2 linked regions of the Homo sapiens genome follow. The protein of the gene in region 1 purifies or fractionates together with the protein of each later gene. This does not show direct contact. Each region holds a gene or a part of one and is shown in the gene's direction. Other genes may lie near its edges.

Region 1 (9,019 bases):
ATGTCAGCAGCACCACCCCAGATGTGACAACCCCAAATTTCTTCAGACATTGCCACGATAGCCCCAGGGTGAACACAGTGCTCTCCCAGTTGAGAACCACTGTTCATTAGGCACCTCTCGTCTCTGATGCTGTGTTGGGAATTTGCCAAGTGCTTCTTACCCAGCTTAGTCACAGGCACACTTACGCCAAGCTAAATTCTTAGAGATGATGTATTACCAGCCCTTCTTTGTTTTCACTCTCTTCTCTAGAGCAGAATCATTTAACATACTGTAGCAATTGATATTTGAACTGGTTTTGGGGGTCTGGGCTCTGGTCTGTATGTGTGTAGGTCGCAGATTACAAGGTATCAAGCCTAGAGAGATTTGATGGAGGGACTTGAACTGAGGTTGAAATTCTAGCAGCTATTTTCTGCATAGAATGAATAGTGTGGTTGTGAATTTGAGGCATGATGTAGCTTGTGATATTCTGTAACCTTCAGAGTGTAAGATATTCTTTATATTTTGTTTGTCTTCGTGCTTTCCTCTTGCTCCTTCTTTCTTGGTGGAATAATTGTTTATTTACATATTCTTGGGTCTTAGTATTAGAGCCATGGGTAGCTACTTTCTGCCTGTTACAGCTTTTTCTCATTCACTGCTTCCTGCTTTGCATCTTCATTTTATTCTTCTTGCCTTTTTGTCCTCATCATTGATATTATTACCCTGATACTTTCTCCTTCACCTTTTGTTCTGGCTCCTCAACAGTCCTCAAACTGTAAATATTTTTTAAATGCAAATGAATCGTCAATTCATATTGCTAGTTTAGACACTTCCACATTCATTAGTATGACTGCCCCACGGACATTTAAACTTGAGTAGTCTTTTCTAAAAATAAACTTTCTGGAATTTTCCCATCACAGACATTGTTCTTTCTCTTTTCCATATCTGTGTGAATTGTTGCCCATTAAGATTTTATAGCCAAGGCCGAGCGCGGTGGCTCACGCCTGTAATCCCAGCACTTTGGGAGGCCGAGGCAGGCGGATCATGAGGTCAGGAGATTGAGACCATCCTGGCTAACACGGTGAAACCCCGTCTCTACTAAAAACACAAAAAAATTAGCCGGGCGTGGTGGCGGGCGCCTGTAGTCCCAGCTACTCGGGAGGCTGAGGCAGGAGAATGGCGCGAACCCAGGAGGCGGAGCGTGCAGTGAGCCGAGATCGCACCACTGCACTCCAGCCTGGGCGACAGAGCAAGACTCCATCTCAAAAAAAAAAAATATTTTATAGCCAAGATAAAAGCTTCAAAATATGGACATAAAGCCAACATAAGAGAAGTAGCCACATGAAATAGCACATCGATTTGATCATTTCAGTTCCTCAGTACAGCCACAATGTAAGATTGATACAATCCTGGATATTTACTGCAAATTGACACACACAGCACCTCTACCACATTCTATGTTCAAGCCAGTTTGAGTTGTGCCTCTATGAAATGCCACCATAAACAGCCCTAATACAGAGAAAATAGTTAATCCTGTATTATGTGGACCAAACTTAAGCTTTTCTTCGGGGTCATTGAGATGTATGGAGCACAAGATAAAAAGACCAAATAGAAAGGAATAGGCCAATTCCACAGAAATGAGACTAGCAGTGGCAGTGATAAAGGTGAACAACTGGTGACCAAATGAAATTGAGGATGTGAAGTGGACTGACTTGGGCAAAGATAGGATGCCAGGGTGAATATATGGTAGTTATTTCCTATTTTGTTTAAATTTGGTGACTTAAGTGGTTGCTAGTGTGATTCAGTAGGATGGAAGGGAGACAAGAGTTGCCGAACTAAGTTCTTTTAAACATCTTGCATTTGAGGTACCTGTGACATATTTGCTGGTGTATATATTAATCAAAATCATAAGGAAAGGGGGCTGAGCAGAAGTACAGATTTGAGAATCATCAACATGTGTACATTAAAATGAAGGAAATGGATGAAGTCAGCAAAGGTAGGGTAGAAGGTTAGAGAAGGTGAAGTTTGAGAAACAGCCATATATAAAGTCCATGAGCCTGTATCTTCAGCAACCAGAACAGGATGTAAGCTACTCAAGGATAGAAATTATGACTTCATCATCTGAGGTTCTCTAGGCCAGGCACAATGCCTGACAAATAATACATGCTATACATACATAACATTACACACACATATGCACACACACAATGTTGTGAAAATCAAGACACTGATGAGTCAATTGAGTTATTTTTTGATGTCTTCACATGGGTTCTTAGGGACAGTCTGCCCTGAGTTTTTTCTCTACTTTGTGGCCTCCACATTAGGATTATCTTTATTTGTATCATATCATGGGGTAGGGGACATGGAAGGAGAAATGTGGATAAGGGCATGACCTGTTACTCCTTGACTTAACCTGTCTTTTTCCTTCCTAGGATGTGAGTGATGTCACAGAAAGGTATGTGTAAGGAGAACATGAGGTAGTTCCCCTGGACTGACAAATGATTCCTTTACCCATGATCAGTGGGAAAGGGAAGAAGAATCAGAGTGGGGAAGATTCAAGAGAGTAGTCTTGAATCGCGCATCACATGGAGTTTTGGCATCCCCAAATAAAGGGGATGAACTGGCCTCTCTGGTAGGAAAATGTGGGTGATGGGAGGTCAGTAGGTGGGGACAGTACTGTTATTTAGAATAAAGAGTTGCAGTATTGCGCCACTGCACTCCAGCCTGGGAGACAAAGGGAGACTCTGCCTCAAACAAACAAAAAAAAATGAATAAAGAGTTGCAGTATCAGTGACTCCCCAAGTACCCTGTTAGTGTACTTTTCCATAAACCTCTGTGCCTGCTTTCATCCCTGATTCTTAAGTTTATAGTTACCTCAAAATACACAGGAATTTTCTTTGCCCATAAATTTTTTTTTTTTTTTTTTTTTGAGACAGAGTTTCACTCTGTCGCCCAGGCTGGAGTGCAGTGGTGTGATCTCGGCTCACTGCACCTTCCTGCCCGTGAATTTTATCAGAGTGACATTCCCATCTGCATTATTTCTCAAGGTCTAAGAATTTGGTCTTGGCACATCTGCCTTAAGTTTTTCTTTCTCCCAGGCCTTGCTCCCTAGTAGATTTTCTTTTGTCTCAATTCCAGTAAAAACGTAAACCCGAGCTCTGGAGGATAATAATTTAGCCCGGGAATCAAACATGTTCTCTATCACATACTCCAGAGTCTCATCCAACAAGGTGACATGTCAAGCTGCTTGCACACTTGGTTCCTCCATGCTCCTCACAGACACACGAAATGGGAACCCTATCGTCCCTTCTGAAATCTGTACTCTCCGTTTGGAGGTGAGGACATCTTTTCTCCAGCTAGTGGCATAACATTCCCAGAGACGGCAAATCCTAAAATGCTGTTTTGAAGGTTTTCTGAGAAATCCCAGGGCCTAAGCCCACAGACTCTTCTGAAGAAACCCCTTCATTTGATACTTTCAAAGCCCCAGCAATAGGCCCCTGGTGTTCTGCCTGTCAACCCAGACATCTTCAACCCCTCTGATTTTAAATATTTTATATCTTTTTTTAGAGGTAGCAAAAGATTTCCAAGCCATTATTTTACTGAACTGCATAACATCTCTAGGACACAGAAAAAGGAAAATTATAGTATTTTCTAAAAACAACAACAGAAAAACAAAATGAGACTTTAAGAAGTTAAATCTTGGACAGGCGCAGTGACTCACACCTGTAATCCCAGCACTTTGGGAGGCTGAGGAGGGCAGATCACGAGGTCAGGAGATCAAAACCATCCTGGCTAACATGATGAAACCCTATCTCTACTAAATATACAAGAAAATTAGCCAGGCGTGGTGGCACGCGCCTGTAGTCCCAGCTACTCAGAAGGCTGAGGCAGGAGAATCGCTTGAACCTGGGAGGTGGAGGTTGCAGTGAGCCGAGATCGTGCCACTGCACTCCAGCCTGGGTGACAGAGCGAGACTCCTTCTCAAAAAAAAAAGTTAAATCTTACACAAGTTTATGTAGATGGTGAGATGATAGTTTCTAGTCTAGCTCTTCTGGCTCCAGTGCCAGGGCTGTTTGCAGAATGATGCTAAGTGTATTCAGAAAGGAGGATTGGAATTCATCAGTAGGCTTGGGAGGTAAGGGAGATGGGTGGTGGAGGAACCCACAGTCAGCAGTGTGGGAACTCAGAAGTCCTGTCCTTTCTAGGAGTGAGTTCTGGACCCTGAGGAAGCCAGAAGCTCTCCCTACAAAGCTGAGAAGTATGTTCCGAGCCCCAGATCTGAAAAGGATGCTGCGAGTGTGTAGAGGTAAGGAGATTCAGGGGAAAGAGTTTGGATGTGAAATTACTGTCGTGGGAAGAAATAAACGGGATAGAGGCTATAGTCGGTATTTGAGCATAGTGGCAAAGAGGGAGGTCCCAGAGGGAGGGACATAGTGTGCTGAAGAAGATGCGGTTTGTATTTAAGGGGAGATGAAATGGCCAGGTGACATCCTCACAGGATTCCTCACCATTCCCCTCAATGTAGTAAGGAGAGAGATACCAGACATGAGACAGTTGGTCCTATTCAACATTATTGACTCTTTTCATCATTACAGAGCTGACAGATGTCCAAAGCTACTGGGGTAAGTAGAAGCCATGGCCTCTTTGGGCTGGCACATTCTGATCTCCTTTCACATGCCCTCCCCAGACATAGCCACACAGATCCTAGGTGTTGATGCCTCCCCCATCCCCGCCATATAGTTCCAGTTCCTCCAACCACTTCCTGTGTTTCCTCTTCTCAGCATAACGAGACCCATGTCCCCGTTCTCATCTGCTGATGTTGTACCTTTTCCTACAGTTGACGTGACCCTGAATCCACACACAGCTAATTTAAATCTTGTCCTGGCTAAAAACCGGAGACAAGTGAGGTTTGTGGGAGCTAAAGTATCTGGACCTTCCTGTCTGGAAAAGCATTATGACTGTAGTGTCCTGGGCTCCCAGCACTTCTCCTCTGGTAAGCATTACTGGGAGGTAGATGTGGCCAAGAAGACTGCCTGGATCCTGGGGGTATGCAGCAATTCACTGGGACCTACATTCTCTTTCAACCATTTTGCTCAAAATCACAGTGCTTACTCCAGGTATCAGCCTCAGAGTGGATACTGGGTGATTGGGTTACAGCATAACCATGAATATAGGGCCTATGAGGATTCTTCCCCTTCCCTGCTTCTCTCCATGACAGTGCCCCCTCGCCGTGTTGGGGTTTTCTTAGATTATGAGGCTGGTACTGTCTCCTTTTATAATGTCACAAACCATGGCTTCCCCATCTACACTTTCTCTAAATATTACTTTCCCACTACTCTTTGTCCATATTTTAATCCTTGCAACTGTGTAATTCCTATGACCCTGCGTCGTCCAAGCTCTTGAATATTCTTCTGTTCCCACCCACTTCTGATAAGTACCCTGAGGCTTATCAGCATGTGATTCTCCCTTCTGATCTTCTGTTTTTCTGTGTTCTCAATTCTTTTGTTGTTTTTTGGTTTTTGAATCTTTTTTGAGATGGAATCTCGCTCTGTCGCCCAGGCTGGAGTGCACTGGCGCAATCTCGGCTCACTGCAACCTCTGCCTCCTGGGTTCAAGCGAACCTCCTGCCTCAGCATCCCAAGTAGCTGGGATTACAGGCACCCACCACCATGCCCAACTAATTTTTGTATTTTTATAGAGATAGGGTTTCACCGTGTTGGCCAGGCTGATCTCGAACTCCTGACCGCAAGTGATCCACCCGCCTCGGTCTCCCAAAGTGCTGGGATTACAGATGTGAGCCGCCGCGCCCAGACAGTTCTTTCGTTTTAAACAGTTACTCAGTACTAGGATGCACCCAGTGGTGAGAGTAAGCATCTTTGACTGATGACAGGTCTTGAGGTGGATAGGGGGCGCTTTCAGTATTTTGCCATTAAGCATAGTATTTGATGCAGGTTTTTTTTGATTGATGCAGGGGATCAAATTTAGGAAGTTCTGATCTGTTAATTTACTACAAGTTTTTGTATAAAATGAAAACTCGTATTCTACCTATGTCTTTTCTGTAAATTATTGAGACAATTGTGTATCATTTTTGTTCTGTTAATGTGGCTTAGTACATTGATTTACTTCAATTTGTTACCACAACTTGCTGAAATACACCATTATTATTTGTTGTATGCAATACTGGATTTATTTTGATAACGTATTGTTTAGATTTTGTTCTCATCTATGTTAATGAAAGAAATTGGCCTGTATTTTTACATTCTTGTAATATCTTTGCCAGGTTCTATAAAATGCAATAATAAGCAAATAAATTACTTTGTTTTTGTATAAGTATGTATAGGATTGAGCTCTAAAACCAAACCATTATAATGATAATTTGGGTAGCTTCAAACTCAAATTGAAGAGAGTCTTCACTACAATCTTCACTACAACCTTTGGCCTTCCTCTCTACATTTAAGAGTAGCAATAGAACAATAAAAAAAAATACGTCTTTCAAATTAATTGCAGTAAAAACAAAAGAGTAGTGGGGAGAGAAAAACAATCCAATACATATTTTTCTCTCAGAATAGAAAGAAAACACAAAGAGAAAATATGAACAATATAAAGCACTTAAAGGAAGAGGATGATTTCTTCCAGCTTTTCCACACTCTCTTTATGCGCAGGAACAAACAGCTGTTGAGTGAGCTGCTATGACTTTGGTAGAGAGGTGCAATATGTTTTTTGAACCAGCTATAAAAGAAATTAAGAGGTACATGTGAGGGTAGAAACAAATATCAAGGATGAGAATGGCACTGGCTGTCCCATATGGTATCCAGGAGCCACCAATGTCTGTTGAGTACTTCATACATGCCTAGTCTGAATTGAGATGTGCTCAATGTATAAAATATATACCAGATTTCAAATACCTACTTCAAAAAATAATGTAAAATATCTCACTAATAACTTTTCCTTTGTGTATTGCAATGATAATATGTTGGCTCTATTGGATTAAATAAAGTATGTTATTCATTTTACCTGTTTCATTTTACTTTTTTAATGTGGATACTAGAAACCTTAAAATTACATATGTGGCTTACATTGTATTTCTATTGGACAACTCTGGAGTAGATCCTATAATGAAATTTCTGTCCCTAAGTGAGCCCTAGTGTAAAAGCCTATGGACTCAGGATACAGAGGAGGTTTCAAGGCACATATGTTTATCTCTACAGAACCTGCACCTTCCCAGCTGCCCTGAGGCATTTTTATGGAAGGTAATGACAGAGAAAAGAAGATCTCAACATATCTAGAAGTGTAGAAATTTGGAAGATCATAGAAAGGGCTCATGACCAGAGAATGATTCTGCAGACTCTGGCCCCTGCCGTTAGTCCTCAGTCTGTTGGGCACTTGAAGCTCCTTCATGGTTTGATGAAACACTGATTTGTTATCAAGGCTCAGCTTGGGTGTCTATGGTGAGATAAAGTAGTGCAGATTATAGTAAAAGCTCACTACTGGTTTGTTCTAAGGCACCGTTTTATAATATTTGGGAGATCATATCTGTGGAAGCCCAGAGGCTGGATGCAAACTCCTTATCCTGGTCTGCGTTTCAATTGGAAGAGATATAAAAGGAGATAGGGCCAGCTGACTGGGACCTATGGGGCTGGTGGAAGTTCAGGAAAGAGAAAGATCTGCTGGAGTAGTTATCCCCTTCCCACTTATTTTCCCATATAATAAGTAAGTTCTAGGCAAAAGAGTTAGCCCAGCTCTCTTCTGTAAACTCATTTTACAAGTAAATTTACTTTCCAAGTGAATTTACTTTATAAGTAATTTTTCTTTTTTGTCACCAGAGTTCTAGGGATGTGGTATAGTTATCCTAATATTTCCCAAAATGTGAGTGCTTGCTAGAGCCGATATTTAAGTTTGATGCTAACTTAAAAAGAAGATTTTGGAAGGGAGAGGGACTTTCTTAACAGCTTTATTGTGATATTTACTTCTTTATAAGTAAATTCACTTGGAGAACCCAAAGTATTGTCCAGTGAATGACTTTAGATAATAGTGAAAGCCAAACTAAGTACTTGCTGGAATTCTATAGGTAAGACCTGGGGAAGGTTGCTCAATCTGAGACTTGGGGACAATTATTAGGGTAAGTTCACAGCTCTGACCTTTTCTTGAGGGGTTATGGGGGCTTGACAGAGGCCTTCTGTTCTTGACATGTGATAGAGTAGGCTCAACTACTATGAAAAAGAACTCTAAAAATACATAATGGATCAAATACTAAAGAAATGTACTTCTTGTTAATGTAAAACAATCGGTCATGAGTGTATGTAACTGGTGGTGAGTGGCACTGTTCCATGTGGGATTCATGCACCAAGCTTGCTTTCATCTTGTGGCACTTGCTGTACCCCAGAATGGTAACAGCATGAAGCTGGCAGAAAGGTGAAGAAAACTTAGGGGAGAAAACGTGCTTTTTAAATCCTTAGTTCATAGATGGGATTCGTAATATCTGCTCATTTTCTATTAATGAGAATAGCCATAGGGCTAAACCTAACTGTAAAGATTTTTTAAATGTCTAGCTGTATGCAATCATGTACAATCAAATTTCAAGGAAAAGAAAACTCAGATTTTGGTGGAAACTGCCTGGAACCCTAAGTAATCCTTTTTCCCATTATAGAGGACTCAGGATCTCAGCTTTTTTCTGGAACTATGTTAATTCCATTCTATAGCCTAAAGTTTGTAAAAGAGAACTGTATTGTCACTAAAGTTCTAGACATGTGGTATAGTTATCCTAATATTTCCCAACAAGCGAGTGCTTGTTAGAGCTGGCATGTAAGTTTGATTCTAACTTAAAAATAATCTTTTTAGGGGAAGAGGACTGTCTTAACATTATTATTGTAATATAACTGACATATAATACATTTCATAAAGTATATAACTTGATACATTTTGACTTGTGAAACTCATCACCATCAAGGCAATAAATCAGATGGGGTTCTTTTTTGTATATATAGCACTTAGAGCTATACATTTCCTTCTGTGGCTTTAAATGCATCTCACAAATTTTGATATA
Region 2 (8,187 bases), on another chromosome or scaffold:
CATTCTTATCTTCCCTGTCAAGACTTCACATAGGTGGACTGATGCTAGACTATGATGATGAGTCTCCAGTGAAAGTTTCTAAGTAGAACTCTCTCAGGGTTTCTAGAAGCATTTTTGTTTAAGAAAATATTGTGGGGGGAGCGGGATTTTTAAATGGTGGAGCTCATGGTAAACAAAATTATGTGTGCAAAATGTTAATAGAGCCTTTCTAATATTCTTGTGATTAACTCTGGTGACAGTTGGCTGAGTGTTCTTGTTTCTGCAACGCCTGTCTTTGGAAATGTGATAGGGGGCTTATTGAGCAGACTGCAACTGGAAATGAGGAATGTTGACTTGAAGTCTGTAATTCACTTATACTTTTCTCTAAATCCTAGACTGAGTCACTCAATGTGAGATAAGTACTGCACATAAAATGCAATGGATTTCACGTTATACAGTGGAGTGGGTAAGAGCACAGACATTAGAGGCAATGGCAGGAAATCCAGGTGCAAATCCCACCCTATAAGTCTTAGTTTTCCCATTTGTAAAGTGAAGATAAAAAACACTTTGTGCATTAGGTTGCTTTGAAGATTGAATTAGCTAAATGCTTAGTATAATCCCAAGGCATGGAACATACTTATGTGCTCAATAAGTGACACATATGATTCATATATATGTAACAGTATCTAATTTAAAAACATAATAGGCCGGGCGTGGTGGCTTATGCCTGTAATCCCAGCACTTTGGGAGACCGAGGCGGGTGGATCACAAAATCAGGAGCTTGAGACCAACCTGGCCAACATGATGAAACCCCGTCTCTACTAAAAATACAAAAATTAGCTGGACATGGTGGCGGGTGCCTGTAATCCCAGCTACTCGGGAGGCTGCGGCAGGAGAATCGCTTGAACCCGGGAGGCAGAGGTTGCAGTGAGCCGAGATTGTGCCACTGCACTCCACTGTGGGTGACAGAGTGAGACTCCGTCTCAAAAAAAAAAAAAAAAAAAACAAAAAAAAAACCACATAATAGAGGCCAGTGGCTCATGCCTGTAATCCCAACACTTTGGGAAGCCAAGGCAGGAGGATAGCTTGAGGCCAGCCTGGGCAACATGGTGATACCCTATCTCTATGAAATAAAAATGTAAAAATTCACTGGGCATGGTAACACATGACTGCGGTCTCAGCTATTCAGGAGGCTGAGGCATGAGAATCACTTGAGCCCAGGTGGTGGAGGCTGCAGTGAGCTGTGTTCACGCCACTGCACTCCAGCCTGGGTGATAGAGTGAGACCATGTCTCAAAAAAAAAAAAAAAAAAAAAAAAGAAAGGAAGGAAGGAAGAAAACATAATAGACAAATAATAGACAAACTATTTTATTCACAGTAGTGACAACATGTGAACTCTTTAAAGAAACCCTTAAAAATAAATTATGTGCCTTAAGGCCGGGCACAGTGGCTCATACCTGTAATCCCAGCACTTTGGGAGGCTGAGGCAGGTGGATCACTTGAGTCCAGCCTGGCCAACCAACATGGTGAAATCCTGTCTCTACTAAACAATAATTAGCTGGATGTGGTGGTTAGCACCTGTCGTCCCAGCTACTCCAGAGGCTGAGGCAGGAGAATCACTTAAACTTGGGAGGTGGAGGTTTCAGTGAGCCAAGATCGCATCACTGCACTCCAGCCTGGGCAACAGAGTGAGACCCTATATATATTTTTTTTTAAAAATGTATATATGTATAAATATAAAATCATTTCATTATATAATCATTTCATTATATATCTATAAATCATTGTGTGTGTGTGTGTGTGTGTGTGTGTGTGTGTGTGTGTATATATATATATATATATATATATATATATATATATAATCTTGTGTGCCTTAAAAGAAAAACCAAATTGGGTAAAAGTGTCAAATGTCCTCAAATTAATTTATAGGCTCATTGCATTCCAATAAAAATTATGTGACATAATTCTAAAGTATGTTTGCAGAAATAAATAAGCAACAATTATGAGAACAAAATGAATTTTTTTAATTATGAAGGAAGACATAATGTAATAAAATACAATATAAATTATAAAGTTAAAACAATTTGATACCAGCAAAAAGGTAAAGAGGAAATATATAATAAATGAAACTTCCAGCATCAGAAAGGAGGAAAGGACTAGTCAATAAATTATTTCTGGGACAACTGATTAGTTATTTTTGGAGCTAGAGAATCTTGGTTTATAGCCCTAAGCTCATACCATTTCACCAAACACATGTCAATTAAATATAAAAGTTAAATGTAAACATTTAAATTACCAAAAATATAATACAGTTAATGTGAGCATTTAATCAAATTTCTGGTAAGAGTGGTCATAGAGAAAAAGAATGACAAATTTGACTTCTTAAAAAATCGTAACTTTTAATATCTCAAAAATAACCAAATTTAAAAGCCAAATAACAAATTGCAAAACAAAAGGGCAATGAGGGATTAATATGAACAGTTAATGCAAATTGACAATTAAAAATATGAAGTGTCCCCCAGACAAATAAAAAACAGTTAATTAGCTGAACAGAAATTATGAAAAGTTGCAAATGTGAAAAAATTTAAACTCATTTGAAACAAAAAAATTGAAGTAAAATAACTAGGTATGATTTTTACCTATCAAATTATTTCATATTTTAAGAGTGAGAGCACTGAATTCAGTTAAGAATGGGGTAAAACAGCCACTTTTTTATTCTGAAGTAAAGATTGGTTTAGCCTATTTGTTAATAACAGAAATCAGAAAGTCTTCCAATTGCTATGTTCTTTAGCCCAGTCATTCCACTTTTAGAATCTTCTTCTTTGGAAAACATCCTGAATACAAAAAATAAATTGCAATATGCACAAAGATAACTATCATAGGATTATTTATAACCAAAAATCAAAGACACCATGAATAGTAATGTGATTAAATATATGATAGTATATGATAAAATGTTATATAAGCATTTTCAAAAGTTTAAGTTTATCAAAAATAAATATTTATTATGAAAAGTAAAATAATTTGTTATAAAAACAAATTTGAACATAGTATAATAATATAATAAATAAAAGAATATGAAATAAATAATGATAGTAATAAATTTAAAAATACATAAAGACAAAGGTTAGGAAAAAGAAAAAAGCCAAAATGTTAACTGTTTGTTGTTAGGTGATGGACATAGGGGAGATTTTTATTCCATTAAAAAAAATTTTGGCCGGGCGCGGTGGCTCACGCCTGTAATCCCAGCACTTTGGGAGGCGGAGGCGGGTGGATCACGAGGTCAGGAGATTGAGACCATCCTGGCTAACACGGTGAAACCACATCTCTACTAAAAATACAAAAAATTAGCCAGGTGTGGTGGTGGGCACCCGTAGTCCCAGCTACTCGGGAGGCTGACGCAGGAGAATGCCGTGAACCCGGGAGGCGGAGCTTGCAGTGAGCCGAGATGGCGCCACTGTACTCCAGCCTGGGCGACAGAGCAAGACTCCATCTCAAAATAAAAAATAAAAAATAAATAAATAAATAAATACATAAAAATTTTGAGCTAGGATCTTCCTCTGTCGCCCAGGCCGGAGTGCAGTGGTGCAGTCATAACTCACTGTGGTCTTGGCCTCCTGGGCTCAAGGAATCCTCTTGCCTCTGTCTCCGGTGTAGCTGGGAACAGAGGTGCACACCACATCCAGTTGATTTTTTAATTTTTTGTAGAGACAGGGTCTCACTTTGTTACCCAGGCTGGTCTCCAACCCCTGGGCTCAAGCAATCTGCCTGTCTCAGCTCCCCAAAGTGCTGGGATTACAGGCATAAGTCACCACACTCGACCTTAAAAATATTTTTCTAACTTTAAAAATTATCAACATCTTTAACTTTTAAGGTATAAAAACTCCAAAAAAGAAACCAAAATCAAGTGCAGATGCTTGAGCCCAACACCCAAGGATTCTGGTTCAGTGGGTCAGATGATCCCAGGTGACTCTGAGACAGGGCCTTGAGGAAGCACATTTTAAGTAGCATGGGGTCCCCTCCTTAAGACCAGTTGCTGTCCTTCAGGCTCCTGTGCAATGCTCACAGTCCAGGGCCTCTGCCTGTGCCATTCCCTCTGCCTCGGATGCCTTTTGCAGCAGCCTCTGGAGACCTTCTTTTGCCCTCAAGGCCCATTTAAATCCCTCAGATAATGAATTACTCCTACCTCTTCTTTCACTTAAAATGTGGCTTGTGTTTTTCTTTTTGTTTGTTTTGGTCTTTTTTAAACGTCTCTCTCCCCTCTGGACTTTGCAACTGAGAATAGGGTGCCATGTCTGATTCATATCTGCCCTCATCACACTTACCACCGTCTTAGCACAAACCTGGCGGTCCATAAATACATGGGTCCAATGGCATCAAATGACCCTGTGCCTCACCTCTGAGGAAACCAAAGCCCCATGTCCCTGCTACACTTTGCCCAATCCCTCTGAAAGACTCCTTTTTGGTCGTACTTGATCACTGAAGAAGGAACTGGACACAGGAAGAAATTAACTTCCTCTAAAACAGTGGTTCTTTTTTATTTTTGAGACAGGGTTTTGCTCTGTTGCCCAGGCTGGAGTGCAGTGCCATGATCACAGCTCACTGCAGCCTTGACCTCCTGGGCTCAAGCGATCCTCCTGCCCCAGCCTCCTGAGTAGCTGAGATTACAGGCAGGCGCTACCATGCCTGGCTAATTTTTTATCTTTTTGTAGAGACAGGCCCACAGTGTGTTGCCCAGGCTAAGCGGTGGTTCTTAACCAGGATGATTTTGCTTCCCAAAGGACATTTGGCAATGTCTGCAGACATTTTTTATTGTCACAACTGGAAAACTGCTGCTAGCATCCAGTGGGTGGAGACCAGGGATACTGGTCGGCCCTCCACAACAAAGAATTATCCAACCTAAAATGTCATAGAGCTGCGATTGAGAAACCCTGCTTTAAAGCACCAGCCTGGCCAATAATAGCCAGTGAAAATTGAGCCCAAGTGCCTCTGTCAGATTCTCAGCAGGAGATAGTGTACACTCAGCTGCGGTTTTGAAATTGTTTGACAGTGTATACTCAGCTGGGGTTTTACAACTGGTTAAATGAATGTCCTACAGAAATGTGCATAGGGTTAAGGCAACTACAAAGGGATGTCGAGGCACCCAAGAGCCAGCAACAGAGGGAGCTCTCACACCCCTAAACATGAAGGGGTCAGGTGACGAGGGCAGTGTCATTGGAGCTTAGTGAGAGCTTGAGCTCTGAAAGAGGGGCTGCCCAACAGGAACTGTGCTCATGGAGGGCCACGCCATTGTCAGGAGATAGACCCTGACTTCTTTTGCCCTCCTACTTTCCAGCCTCTTGCAGGAATCTTCTATCAGCCAAATATAGCCAGAAGCCAGAAAGCAATGAACACTTGAGTGATACAATGTGCCTTGCATCACTCAGTGCACAAAGGCAGGGGAGAGACTGTAGGAGAGTGAAGAGGAGGGAAGGTCAAATGGAAATAATGAACACATAGAAAATACTGGTTCCAGGTCTGAGTCCTACCTGGGGCCCTGTTGAGAAGGAGTATACCCTTTAAATGTCAATCAGAAATTTCCAGGGCTGACCATTCTCCTCTCCAGATCCATCCCATCCTGTGTAACATGGTGCCACACTCTCCCAGCATGGGAATGTCAATGAGAATTTTCCAGCCATTGGGAGTCTGCCAGGCTCATATGGCTTTTGTCTCCACTAGATCTGGCACCACTCCTTCTACAATGAGCTGCGTGTAGCACCTGAAGAGCACCCCACCCTGCTCACAGAGGCTCCCCTAAATCCCAAGGCCAACAGGGAAAAGATGACCCAGGTAAGAAGCCAGGAAGACTTGAACACTGGCATAAGAATGCAACATGGATGCTTGGCCAGATACTTTCTCCCCTTCAAACATCAGTGCAACAGAACTCTCTGAGGACCTGCTATGTCTGTGGTCCATGCCAGGCCCTGGGGGAGTGGGTGTGGAATAATGAACTATCAAACTGGCATAGTTCCTGCCCTTAATGAGATTACAAACCATTCTACAGGCCAAGAAGTGCTGTGATTTTTGCCAAATAATCTTTTATTCTTCATTGTCCTTTAAGATCATGTTTGAAACCTTCAATGTCCCTGCCATGTACGTCGCCATTCAAGCTGTGCTCTCCCTCTATGCCTCTGGCCGCACGACAGGTGAGTAATCCTGTAATCCATTCCTTTTCTGACTTCAGGGGAGGTAGGGAAAAGCTGGGGTCTGGCAGAGGCTCCTGCTCAGAAGAATCAAATGGACAGCTGAAGTCCAGGCAAAATCTTTCTTAGGGATAATAGGTGAGAATGCCCATGTGGAATGCCAGATGTGAGCCTAGCTGGTATAGTTGGAAAAAACATCCAGCAAGAACTGTTTCCCTCACAGTAATAATTCCAGGAGCTTCTACACATACACACATTCCAACAATACTGGAATGTTTCTGCTTCATGAAGCAGAAAGAGTAGAACCTGTGGTGGTGGAAATGTAAGTGCAGTTACACATTGCTTAATGACAGGGATACGTTCCGAGAAATGTGTGTCATTAGGTGACTTTGTCACTGTGGGAACATCAGAGAGTGTACTTGCACAAACCTAGACGCTGTAGCCTACTACATGCCCCGGCTGTATGGCGTGGCCTATTGCTTCCAGGCTACAGACAGTATAGCATTTAACTATAATTAATACTGTAGGGAACTGTAACAGAATGGTTAGGTATTTGTATAGCTAAACATATTGAAACATAGAAAAGTTACAGTGAAAATATAATATCAAAGATAAAAAATGGTACACCTGTGTAGGGCACTTACATGAATGGAGCTTGCAAGACTAGAAGTTGCTCTGGGTGGGTTAGTGAGTGAGTAGTGAGAAAATGTGAAGACCTAAAATGTTACTGTGTACTACTGTAGACTATAAACACTGTACACATCGGCTGTACTACATTTATAAAAATATTATTCTTGGCCAGGCACAGTGGCTCACACCTGAAATCCCAGCACTTTGTGAGGCTGAGGTGGGCGGATCACCTGAGGTCAGGAGTTCCAGACCAGCCTGGCCAACACGGTGAAACCCCGTCTCTACTAAAAATACAAAAATTAGTTGGACGTGGTGTCAGGCACCTGTAATCCCAGCTACTTGGGAGGCTGAGGCAGAAGAGTCACTTGAACCTGGGAGGCAGAGGTTGCAGTGAGCCAAGATCACGCCACTGCCCTCCAGCCTGTGTGACAGAGCGAGACTCCGTCTCAAAAAATATGTATATATATATATTATTCTTTCTTCAATAATAAATTAACCTTAGCTTACTGTAATGTTTTTTACCTTATAAACTTTTTAATTTTTAAAGCCATTTTTACTTTTTTTGTAGTGACAGTAATAGAAAAACATCTTTTTTCGACTTTTTTTTTTTTTTTTTTTTGAGACGGAGCCTTGCTCTGTCACCAGGCTGGAGTGCAGTAGCGTGATCTCGGCTCATTGCAACCTCTGTCTCCCACGTTCAAACGATTCTCCTGCCTCAGCCTCCCATGACTTTTTTTTTTTTTTTTTTTTGAGATGAAGTCTCACTCTGTCACCCAGGCTGGAGTGCAGTAGTGCGATCTCAGCTCACTGCAACCTCCGCCTCCTAGGTTCAAGTGATTCTCATGCCTCAAACTCCCAAGTAGCTGGGACTACAGGAGCGTGCCACCATGCCTGGCTTATTTTTGTCTTTATTTAGTAGAGAAAAAAAAGGAGTACACCCTTTAAATGTCGATCAGAAATTTCCAGGGCTGACCATTCTCCTCTCCAGATCCATCTCATGTTGGCCAGGCTGGTCTCGAACTCCTGATCTCAAGTGATCTGCCCACCTCAGCCTCCCAAAGTACTGGGATTACAGGTGTGATCATCACCCCCAGCCAAAAATAGTTTCATTTATATCCTTTATTCTACAAGCTTTTTTCTATTAAATTTATTTTATTTTATTTTTTACTTTTAGAGCTTTTTTGATAAAAACTAAAATATACACATTAGCCTCGGCCTACACAGGTTCAGGATCATCAATACCACTGTATTTCATCTCCACATCTTGGCCCACTGGAAGGTCTTCAGGGTTAATAACATGCATGGAGCTGTCATCTCCTATGATAACAATACCTCCTTCTGGAATATCTCCGGAAGGACCTGCCTAAGGCTGTTTTACAGTCAACTTTTTATTTAA

The links. Proteins that work in one complex are often made in the same cells at the same time.
Region 2: the proteins of TRIM6 (region 1) and ACTG2 purify together in Homo sapiens (affinity purification with mass spectrometry, with the first as the bait; 2 studies listed by BioGRID). This does not show direct contact.

What each region holds. Positions count from the first base shown.
Region 1 is NC_000011.10:5,605,964-5,614,982, forward strand, and holds the end of TRIM6 (tripartite motif-containing protein 6), read left to right. Parts: intron 1-2,408; coding exon 2,409-2,431; intron 2,432-4,181; coding exon 4,182-4,282; intron 4,283-4,571; coding exon 4,572-4,598; intron 4,599-4,813; coding exon 4,814-5,379; 3' UTR 5,380-6,989; downstream 6,990-9,019. Other genes in the region: TRIM6-TRIM34 (tripartite motif-containing 6 and tripartite motif-containing 34), read left to right, coding at 2,409-2,431, 4,182-4,282, 4,572-4,598.
Region 2 is NC_000002.12:73,902,976-73,911,162, forward strand, and holds part of ACTG2 (actin, gamma-enteric smooth muscle isoform 1 precursor), read left to right. Parts: intron 1-5,697; coding exon 5,698-5,808; intron 5,809-6,079; coding exon 6,080-6,164; intron 6,165-8,187. UniProt on the Homo sapiens protein: Actins are highly conserved proteins that are involved in various types of cell motility and are ubiquitously expressed in all eukaryotic cells.